Regions from separate parts of the Homo sapiens genome. Here region 1 is linked to region 2. The links come from fine-mapping of genetic effects on gene expression. Tissue or cell type: lung. Region 2 holds a variant in brackets; the other region holds the start of a gene. All regions are shown on one strand. Distances are between the middles of the regions.

Evidence for each region. PIP is the estimated chance that this variant, and not a neighbour inherited with it, causes the effect.
Region 1: it holds the start of NXPE4, and the variant in region 2 is the best candidate, but not a certain one, in a credible set for the expression of NXPE4 in lung (TOPMed, PIP 0.75).

The regions. Positions count from the first base shown.
Region 1 is chr11:114,593,021-114,598,616 of GRCh38, forward strand. NXPE4 (neurexophilin and PC-esterase domain family member 4) reads right to left here and starts at 2,766. Exons shown (of 6, transcript NM_001077639.2): 1 at 2,572-2,766; 2 at 1,644-1,749. The coding sequence starts at 1,739. It also overlaps a transcript of NXPE2 not described here.
Region 2 is chr11:114,479,253-114,484,848 of GRCh38, forward strand. It overlaps a transcript of NXPE2 not described here. Among named protein-coding and RNA genes, the nearest start is that of REXO2, 43 kb to the left of the region's middle. The variant T/C (reference allele first, on the strand shown) is at 2,275.

The DNA.
Region 1 (5,596 bases), 110 kb after region 2:
CAGTTACAAAATGAATTAAAGACTGATATGCATGACCCAAAGTATGAAAATACTAGAAGAAAACCTAGGGAATACTGTTCAGGACACTGATGTAGCCAGAGGATTTTTGGATAAGACCTCAAATGCACAGAGAAGAAAAGCAAAGATAGACAAATGGGATTATATAAAACTAAAAACTTCTTCACAGCAAAGGAAGCAATCAAGTGAGTGAAGAGTTAACCTACAGAATGGGAGAAAATGTTTGCAAACTATCCATCTGACAGGGGATTACTATCCAGAGTATTCAAGGAACTCAACCAACTCTATAGCAAAAATATTTAACAATCCAATTAAAAATTGGGCAAAAGATCTGAATAGACACTTACTAGAAGATATGCAAATGGCAAACAAGTATATGAAAAGGTGCTCAACATCATTGATCATCAGAGAAACACAAATCAAAACTACAGTGTAATATAATCTCACTCCTGTTAAAATGGCTTTTATCCAAAAGACAGATAGTAACATATGCTAGTGAGGATGTGGAGAAAAGGGAACACTTGTACACTGTTGGTGGGAATGTAATTAGTACAACCACTATAGAGAACAGTTTGGAGGTTTCTCAAAAAACTAAAAATAGGCTACCATATGATCCAGCAATCCCACTGCTAGGTATATACCCAAAATAAAGGAAATCAGTATATCCAAGAGCTATCTGAACTCCCATGTTTATTGCAGCACTGATAACAATAGCCAAGATTTGTAAGCAACCTAAGTGTCCATCAACAGACAAATACATAAAGAAAATATGGTATATATACACAACGGAGTAGTATTCAGTTATAAAAAGAACAAGATTCTGTCATTTGCAACAACATGGATGGAACTGAAGGTCATTATGTTAAGTGAAATAAGCTAGGCACAGAAGACAAACTTTGCATGTTCGTTTTTATTTGTGGAAGTTAATACTTAAAATAATTGAAGTCATGGAGTTAGAGAGTAGAATGATGGCTACCAGAGGCTGGGAAGGGTGGTGGGGGCATGGAGGAGAAGTGGGGTTAGTTAATGAGTACAAAAATATGATTAGACAGAATGAATAAGATCTAGCATTTGATAGTATAACAGGGTAACTACAATCACCAATAATTTATTTTACATTTAAAAATAGCTAAAAGAGTATAATTGTCTTGTTTGTAGCACAAGAAAGGATAAATTCTTGAGGCAATGAATACCCCATTTACCCTGATATGATTACTATGTATTATATGCTTGTATCAAAATATCTCATCTACCCCATAAATACATACACCTACTTTGTACCCACAAAAATTAAAAATTAAAAACAAACAAATGAAAACCAAAAATATAGATATTCTGTTCTTCAGATGTTCCCTTAAAGAAAGTAAAAAGATGAGCTAAGCATTGAAGAAGATAGGTGCAATGCATTTATTTGTGACAAAGAAAGAATGTGTATGTGTGAACACACACACAGTATTTATCCTCTCACATATTGCTTAATGATTATCAGGTATGTTGTTTGGTATCTAGCTATTCAAACTCCCCTCCTATAATCTACAAGTCTTGTAGTTTAGCCTTTCCTAGAACAGATGAGGTAATAAGCAAAAATAAGCTTCTGTAAACCACATAAATAAAGCATTTCCTACCTTTGTGGAGTTCTGGAAAACTGTAAAAATGATCCAGGAGGCTAATATAAACAACAGTGCCAATAGTGACTTATAATTTATCATACTTATTTTCATGATTAGGATCCTACAAGAGACAATACAAAAACAAGCACAAAAACATACAACAAAACAGAAAAGCAAACAAACATGGGAAACATTTGAAATTTTTTTGGCTCATGATTACTTTTTAGCCTCAGATAAATAACTCCCAGAAATAAACCTTCACCCCCGCAAGCTGTACTTGGTATCTCCCAGGTGCTCTCTTTTAGCTATCTGCTTGTACATTCTACAGAACAGATAATTCATGGAGCCCACTGTGATCTTTAAGAAATCGAGCAGCTTAAGGGCCTGAAGGATGCAAGCTTGCTCGTGTCTAGATGAAGTCTCCAGACTATTTGTCACCTATCAGGTTCCCTGTTCTATTCCCTTAAACTCAAGGGCAGACACAAAATACTCCAGCAAATATTAACACTGAGAACCACATCATTACAGTGCCTGTTGAATGCAAATTAGTTTTTCTGTTTCATTAATGCCAATCTATTAATATGTCCTCCTTTTCTGTTTTAGCAGGCTTTCTAGCACCCCCTCAAGCTTGAAAAGAATTATTTTAAAACATTTCTTACTTAAAAAAATTTCAGGCTTTATCAGTATTTTTCCATGATTCATCTTAACATTTCTCTTTGCACCGGAATTCCAAGTTCTCTTTTAACTTGGAACTTTAAACTTTAACATCAGATTGCTTGAATGCTGCCTTTCTAAAACTTTCCATCCCTCAAAATTTACCCTCCCCTAGAAGCACCTTTCACCCCAGATCCCTAGTTTATACATGGGCATTAGATGTTTCTGCACCCAAAAATAAATGTCACACCTTTCCCTCACCTTCCCAATTTTACAAATTTTTTCATACCTTTAGTTTACAGATTGTTCAATCCCATACATAGACTCTCTGGCGAGCTAGGTGTTGAGAATTTCTTCTGAAGCCACCAGTGTGCTACTGGCATACCTCTTGTCTATACCAAAATAAATTGCAGATATAAGTTGCAGTTTGTTTACCTTTAGCATGGATTCACAACCTTCTGCTTGTTTCAGCTAAGACAGAAGTGTCAGCCACGTCAGCTCCACCTTAAGGAGGGGCCTGGATCACAAACTGTAGTTATTAGCTCAAGCAGAGGTAGGAAGGAGAAATGAAGTGCTCTGCATAGTAGGTTATATGATTTCAAATTCCTGAAGTTTTATAAGTCTAATTCTAGTTACAATAAATAACTGATGAGAAAAAGAGTGTTTGATAAATAATTGTATTTAGTTAATACAATTTGATAAATATTATAGTTACAATAAATAACTGATGAGAAAAAGAGCCACAAGTTTGAATGATTGAGAGTAATCATCAACAGAAAGTCAAACTTTCTAGTTTCCATCTAGCGTTATCATCAAGACCCAGTTGGCAGGATTCAAGTGCGTATTATCTCATACATAGTAGGTTTCAATACAATTTGCTGAATTGAACTAAAAGAACTTCAAATATAACATAGGGAAGACAATAATATTAATTGCATCTGAGACTAACAGAGTGACAGCTTGTAGTCATGGGTTTGAATCCATCTGGGATTTGTATTCTTGATCTGATGAAAACAGTGCTGGAAAGAGCAGGCACCCAGACAGCTGCACCAGTGCCCACAGGAAGCAGTAGCTGCTGGCCCTGTGGCTCCGTCCATGGGTTGATTACTGCTGCCCTACACAGGAGGGCATGCCCATCATCTTTCCATCTTATTTAAGCATGCCCATCAATCTTTCCAGTCTTATGTTTTTAAAAAGATGGAATCAAGACCAGTTTCACAACTGGTCTACTTGTTTCAGATCTTGAAATTCTTCCAACATCTTTGATCCTGTTCTACCAAATTCACCTTAACAATACTTCTTTATGTCTTTACTTGATGACCTTTGGAAAAGCTGTTTTAACATTATAAAACTGGGTGTAGGATTGTTAAATTTTTCACTGAGGAGCCTATAATAAGAAAAAAGTATTTGCAGTGGGTTTGGTTTGGCTGTTCCTTAGAGGACTGATGCCAGCAACCACCCAAGTTCACAGTCTACTCTGAGACATATAGATTTATAGATTTTAATTTGGTTTGGTCACATAGATTTTGAAATCTAATGTTAACCTGGAGTCTGTTTATGAGGTAGGCACAATAGATATGCTTGACTTAAAGAACCAAGAGTACAAAAGAAAGTTTGAATGATTTGTGCAGGTCATCTGATGAGCTTTGAAACAGGGCTGAATCCAAGATTCCTTTCATTTTGATCTCTAACACTGTGTGTTTATAGTGTATATGTATAACAACATAAGCACAAAGAATGAAAACTAGGAAGTTGGAAAAACTATCTTGAAGTCTTTATACCATGTGTGAATTGGGATAATATTACTTGAAGGATAGACTCTGATTAATTAAGAAAAATATTGTAACCCTGGTATAACCACTAAATATTTCTTTTAAAAAGTGGTATACATAATAAATCAACAATGAAGATTAAATGAAATAATAAAAAATGTTTGATTAGCCCAATAGAAGGAAAAGGAGGAAAAAAAGAAGTGGAACATAGCAAACTGTCAATATATTCTTAAATTCAAATATATGAACAGTGATCTGAAATCTGAATGATATTAACCAGGGGTGGACAAACTTTTTCTGTAAAGAATCAGATAGAAAATATTTTCGGAGAAAGAAACTATAAACAAGAAAATGTAATGGGTATATTAAAATTAACCTTGTGATATTCAGTTGGAATTAGAATAATCAGTATGCACTCAGTTTTTTGATGGATAAATATGCATTTTTATGCATACATGGGTTCATGCACACAGATGTATATTTTCAAGCTCTGTCCATAGAGAAGCCCTAGAAGCAATGACACCTAGTGCCTAGACCTTGGTTTCTTAATTCTCCAGTAAAGGGAGCCAGAATTTCTTGGAGAAGTGGCTGGTTGATTCCATCACTTTGTCAGGGGATATGAAATGAGCCTGGAGCATCTCGGGGTGCTAGGAAATGCCTTTTAAAAAATGGAGGTACATGTCAAAATGGCCCAGAAGCTAACCTGAAAGAGCTCCTGATGACCAAAGTTGCAACAATTTGAGCCACAAAATAAATAACAATTGTTTTGGAATATATATTAATCTACACTCACATTTCAAAATACAATCATTGTTCTCACATTTCAAAATACAATCATGCCTTCCCAACAGTCCCTCAAAGTCTTAGTGAATTTCAGCATTAACTCAAAAGTCTGAAGTCCAAAGTCTCATTTGAGACAAGGTAAGTCCCTTCCACCTATGAGCCTGTAAAATCAAAATCAAGTTAGTTACTTCCAAGATACAATGGGACTATAGGCATTGGGTAAATGTAAAAAAATTCCCTTTTACATTCTAAAAGGGAAAAATTGGCAGAAAGAAAGCAGCTACAGGCTTCATGCAAGTTCAAAACTCAGAAGAGCAGTCACTAAACTTCAGAGCTCCAAAATAATCTCCTTTGACCCCATGTCTCACATCCAGGGCACACTAACGCAAGGGGTGGGCTCCCAAGGACCTGGGCAGCTCTGCCCCTGTGGCTTTGTGTTGAGTGCCTTTGGTTTTTCCAGGTGCAGAGTGCAAGCTGCCAGTGTATCTACCATTCTGGGGTCTGGAGGATGGTGGCCCTTTTCTCACAGCTCCACTAGGCAGTGCCCCAGTGGGGACTCTGTGTGGGGGCTCCAGCCCCACATTGTCCCTCCACACTGCCCTAGTAGAGGTTATCTAGAGGGTTCCACTCCTGCAGCAGACTTCTGCCTGGACATATAGGCTTTTCCATACATCCTCTGAAATCTAAGTAGAGTCTCTCAAGCCTCAACTCTTGCACTCTGTGCACCTGCAGGCTTAATAGCCTGTGGAAGCCACCAAG
Region 2 (5,596 bases):
TAAAGCCAGAGATTGGTATAATTGGATTTGATTCGATTGATGGAAGGATGGGGCAAGAATGGTTGTAAGGGATTTAGGGAGCTACTGTAGTAGTTAGGCAAAGAATAAGGGTAGCTTGGACTAGTGGGCATATAGAGAAGGGACATCTATGTCACTAAGCATTTGAGAAATATTTAGGAGTGGAATAGGATCTTGTGATTGTTTAAATGTGAAAGGAGTTGCTGAGGGAGAAGAAGGAATCAAGGATGACTCCCAGGTTTCAGACTTGAGTAATGGGCTGGGTGGTGATGTCATTTCCTGAGATGGTGAACACTGGGAGGAACAGCAGTTGGAATTGAGGTATAGGAAGGAGGAGTTAATATTTTGGACACCGAGTCAGCCATGCAGAGATGTTTAGTAGGCAGTTAGATCCAGCAGTTTGAAGCTTAGGAGACAGGGCTGGAGTTTGCATGTAGATTTGAGAGTGGACAGCTGAGAGATGGCAATTGGAGGGCAATGGATGAGACCCCACGGTGTTAGTTCATTTTGCATAGCTATAAAGGAATACCCAAGCCTGAGTAATTTATAAAGAAAAGAGGTTTATTTGGCTCACAGTTCTGCAGGCTGTACAAGAAGCATAGGAGGACATCCGCTTCTGACGAGGGGGTCAGGAAGCTTATAATCATGGTGGAAGGTGAAGAGGGAGCAGATGTGTCACATGGAGAGAGAAGGAGCAAGAGAGACATCAGGCTTTTTAAAATAACCAGCTGTCCTGTGAACTAATAGATAACTCACTCATTACTGTGGGGAGCACACCAAGCCATTTGTGAGGAGTCCAACCCCATGACCCAAACATTTCCCACTAGGCCTCATCTCCAACACTGGGGATCACATTTCAACATGAAATTTGGAGGGGGACACACATCCAAACCATACCACTGCCCAAAGAAAGCCTCTAGATGGAGAAGGAAAGAAGACCCAGAAGGAAGCCAGAGCAATGTCAGACTGTTTTGGTCAAGGAAGAGGAAGAAGAGCCAGCAGTAGATACTAAAAAGGAACAGCTAGGAAGATGGAAGGAAAACTATAATCCCTTGGCCAAGTGATTGGCTCAGGGGTGGCCACATGGCCCATACAGATTTCTTTCTAGGATAGATAAATGAATGTTGGGGAGAAAATTCTTTCTTTCCTATTGTGTTTGCTAAGCTAAAAAGACGTTAATCTGGTCCATGAGCAGCCACCTTTCCTGCTGCATGTGAGAGCTTTTCTGAAGAAGGAAGCTGGTGCACAACCAGAAGCAAAGTTGAAAAATGGAGAGCAATGAGCTCTGATGACACTGTGTGAGAGGTGATTCTAGCTGTTATGTTGAATCCCTTATTTACCAGTTACGTGATAATGACCTTTCTTACCTAAGCTAATTGACTTAAGCTTTTGTCATTAGCAACTGAAAGTATCCTAATTAATACAGCGACCGTTGGTTAAAGTATTCACTGTATTGTTGTGGGAGACCCTTATTAAATACCTTTATGGGCCTGAAGCCCACTATTCCTATCCTTCTGCAATTACCGTAACAAAAAATAGGATAATTAATTTGTGACTTTTTAATTTTAAGTTACTTCAGAACAGTATGCTCCTTTTCAGGAAAATAAATTATATTACAACAAGGGAAGGCAGTATTTGCTAGATTCCTTTGAGAAATCTCTAGAGATTATACTTGCTTGCTGTTTTAATGTTTCAACTAGGGGATGGAGAGGGACCTGCCTCAAACAAGATACCAGAGTTATGATTGGATTTGTCGAGGTCCCGTCATTTCTATCCCAGGGGATAAATAAAAGGAGGCAGAACCCTTGTGCTGTTGTGTCCACAAAACTTGGGTGTTTAACCCTCAGGACCAGGTCAGTTCCTAGCTTAGTGTGGGGCAGTGGGGTGAAGGTTTCCCACTTTTGACAGAAGGCTTAAAACTGTGATGTAATATTTGAATAATACTTAGTGTTGCCTGAGGAGAATGATCAGAGAGCTTTGATTGGTCTTTTGTGTCTTGCTGTCCTGAAATTTCTATCTCGTTTCTTAACAGGTTTCAAAGTAAGCCTAGCACAGAGAAGGAACTCATCTCAGATTTTGGTAAGGTTTTAAAACACATACGATAATTTAATTTAGAGCATTGTTGCCTAAAAAGAGCAGTACACTATCTCAGATAAATTAAAATGGCAACAATAGCGCTTTCCTTAGAACATGTGAAGAGGGCAGATACTTTTAATTTTGTGTGTGTGTGTGAAAAAGGAAGTGAAATTTTAAAAA[T/C]AAGAAATACAAATCTAAAAGGTGAATGACACCTGGTAAGAACAACAACACAGATCATATTTAAGGAAATTCATAAAATTAAACTTGAATTTTAAAGTTAAGTTAGAAGACATGTAATTTAAAAACCTTTGGGAAGTAGTAAATCTACTGGTGCAGTGTAGAAATCTCCCATGTAGTAATTCAGTTTCCTTTTCAAATGCTCATTGATGGCATTTAATTCTGTCTGTTGGCAAATTTTTGAAATCTATCTCCCTTCTAAAGGGAACTGAGGACTTCATCTCAGTTGTGTACTTTTCATTCACCTTTCCACTCTTCAGTAAAACAAATACCCCTCATAAGCAATATTCAACACCACTATGTTTATACACCACCCTTCCTATACACTTGCAAGTAACTGTAGCGAAAGATTCAACCATCTTTTCCTCCTACCTCGGCATTGAAGGAACATAGCACAGGTACCATTAAGAATAGCCATACACAAATTGAGAGAGGCTTTAATCCACCTTTCAACTGAAGAATGAAAGATGGATTAAAGCCTCTCTCATTTTGTGCTCCTGGGCAAGTGGTGGCTGGCACGCACACATTTATTGAGTGCCTGTACCGTGTCAGTAGCTATGCAAGGTTGAGAGGATACAGAGATGAAAAAAATATATTTCCTGCTCTTAAGTAGTTCACAGCTTATTGTAAATCCAAATACAAAACACAGCAGTGTATAGGCTCCTCAGCATTGAGGCTGAGGTTAGGAATGCAGCTGTTAGCTCCAAAACAAGGCAGTTGGCTGACCTGGGATCCACATTCAAGACACTGGCCTTGTCAAAACTGCAGTTTAACAAACTGAGTTAAGCAACTAGAACTATCTGTTCAGTCTCAGTGTTACCCTGAGTACTCATGAAAGAATTTCAGAAAAAATTCCTAGGCAATTTCCTCTTTACAGACAAAGCAATGCTAACATGATTTTTTATTTGGGATTTAGAGCATATTTTTCATTAGTTTTAACTATATTTTCAACATTTACATATCCTCTTTCTCCCTTCCTCCCTGCATAACAGTCAATTATGTTTCTTCAGTTATTCATCCCTGTTTGAAAGCAGCTGCAAGGTGCCTTAGTTAATACAGCTGCAACTACTAAGGTCTTGTATGGCCACCTTAGCCCCATAATGCCATCAACTACTATCACATTTGTCTAATCTGTCAATCCCATGCCTTCCACCACTGTATTTTGAATCTGAGTGCACTAAGACTTTCTCCAACACTTCTCTACTCTGTATGTGTGTCATTTCATAAGAAGCTTTGTTCCCATAGGAGGTGTGGTTGCCTTGAGAGATCTGCGAATGTACAATCAATCCACAGAGTTTTTTTTCAGCCAATTGTTAGTTGTAATTTCTCATCATTGGATTACAACAGTTAGGTTCCTCCCACTGCTCCCAGCATCCAGCTACTAATAATTCTACTCCTCCTTCACTTCCTAGCGTTTGTCATTCACAAAGTTTCTACTTAGGAAACCTTGCCAAACTTACTTTATATTCTCTTTGCTTTTCATTTTTCATTTACTACTACCCTAATCTATAGTCTGTATATTCCTTATAAACATAAGTTTTGAAAGCAACAGTAAGATTTTACAATTTCAATATATAGATTTGTTAAAATACTTAAATTGTTTAAGAAATAGCAGCTGACATATTTGAGCCAGACTGCTTTGGTTTAAACCCCAGCTCTGCCACTCGCTGGTTGGGCTACTCATTTGGACTCTTTAAGCATCTGAAAAATAAGTATAATAATAACATATAGGTAGTATTACATAGTGGTTAGAGTGAGAGGATTCTGGCGTTGTGTTCAAATCTTAGCTCTGTCACTTATTTGCTGTCTAATCTTGATCAAATTTACGTAAGTTTTCTAAAGCACAGTTTGCTCTTTTATCCAAGGATAATGATAGCACCTGCCTTAGGAGATTGTTGTATAAATGCAAGGCCTTAAGCCCAGTGCCTGGCACATCTTAGTACTAAACACATGGTCGCTGTTCTTAGGAAAAACACATAGAGTTAAAATTGATCAACCAAAACTCAGATATATAGCTTTCTAACTTTTCTGTGTCTGGCTTAATATTGTTCCTGTTGTTGATGGGTAGGGGAAAAAGCAAAAGTTCCCATCCCAGGCAATAGTCTATTACAGTTTAAGCGGGTATCTTTCAGATGACTCCCACATTTCTTTTGTTGGTAGAATGGAAAGTCTTAGAGGATTCCTCTCCCTGCCATACCCCTGTGATCACACTCCCTTCCTTCTTCTCTTTCCCTGATTGGTCTCTGGGCAGAGAAAGAAGCTTGCATCACCTCGTGGTAGTAGGAGTTCCATCCCAAGAGGACTGTTCCTCTGCTGCTTCCCACTGACCCCTGGCTGATGTGCAACTCATGCTACCTCACCTTTGAGTGTCTGATGCTATTCTTTCTGCATCTACCACTGATGCTTTTATGGGTTGTGTAGCTTGTGGCCTGTTTTCCAGTCAAGGGAAATGAAAGATGGTTGCTCTTCCATGGAGAACTTGGGAAAGTTCTCCGTCATGTCTTCCTGATGACTGAGCCCCCACTGGGCTCCTACTGATGCTGATGACCTAATGTGACTCAGCAGCTCTCCTTTTCCATACCCCTCCCCTATCCCTTTGTATTGTTCAACTCTGCCGTCCTTTCCAATTGACTAATGGAATTATATATCCTGCAAGTTATTCAGTTATCAAAATTCCAAGTGGAAAGTGAAATTCAAGTCCCCTCTTTGCTTTTGGCATAGCCTCAAACTATCTGGGGTATTTTTATTGCACTTTCCCTAAGTTTGGGATGTGGGGGGGTAGAATTGAGGACGTCCTTGATGACTGCATGTGCTCTCTCCCTCTCTCTTTTTCTTTCTCCTCTCTGGGCTTGTTTTCCCAGTGCCCAAAGGGCTTTCCACCTTTCCTCTCTAGGTAGCGGGAATGCCATATCTTTTTTGTTGTCTACTCCGTGGCTTTTTGTAAGATTCTGATCAAGTTGGCCAGACTTGACTCTCTTGATTTATGATCTACAATATATGAAGGGATATTAGAAATCCCCGTTATTCTCCTTAAAAAACAAACCAAGTTAGCTTTCACGTCTTTTCTGTTTCTGCGGGCTAGAATTCTGGTTTGAACATGTAAACTGAGCAACACTTCTCTTTCCACCTGAAATGATGAACATTGTTGATTAGGTAGGTGGGACTTGCAGGATAACATGACATATGGGAAATGAAATTTATATCACTTTAGTCTTTCAAAAATGTTCTTATTTCTATTTGTTTATAGAATGATAAAAAAGCAGAA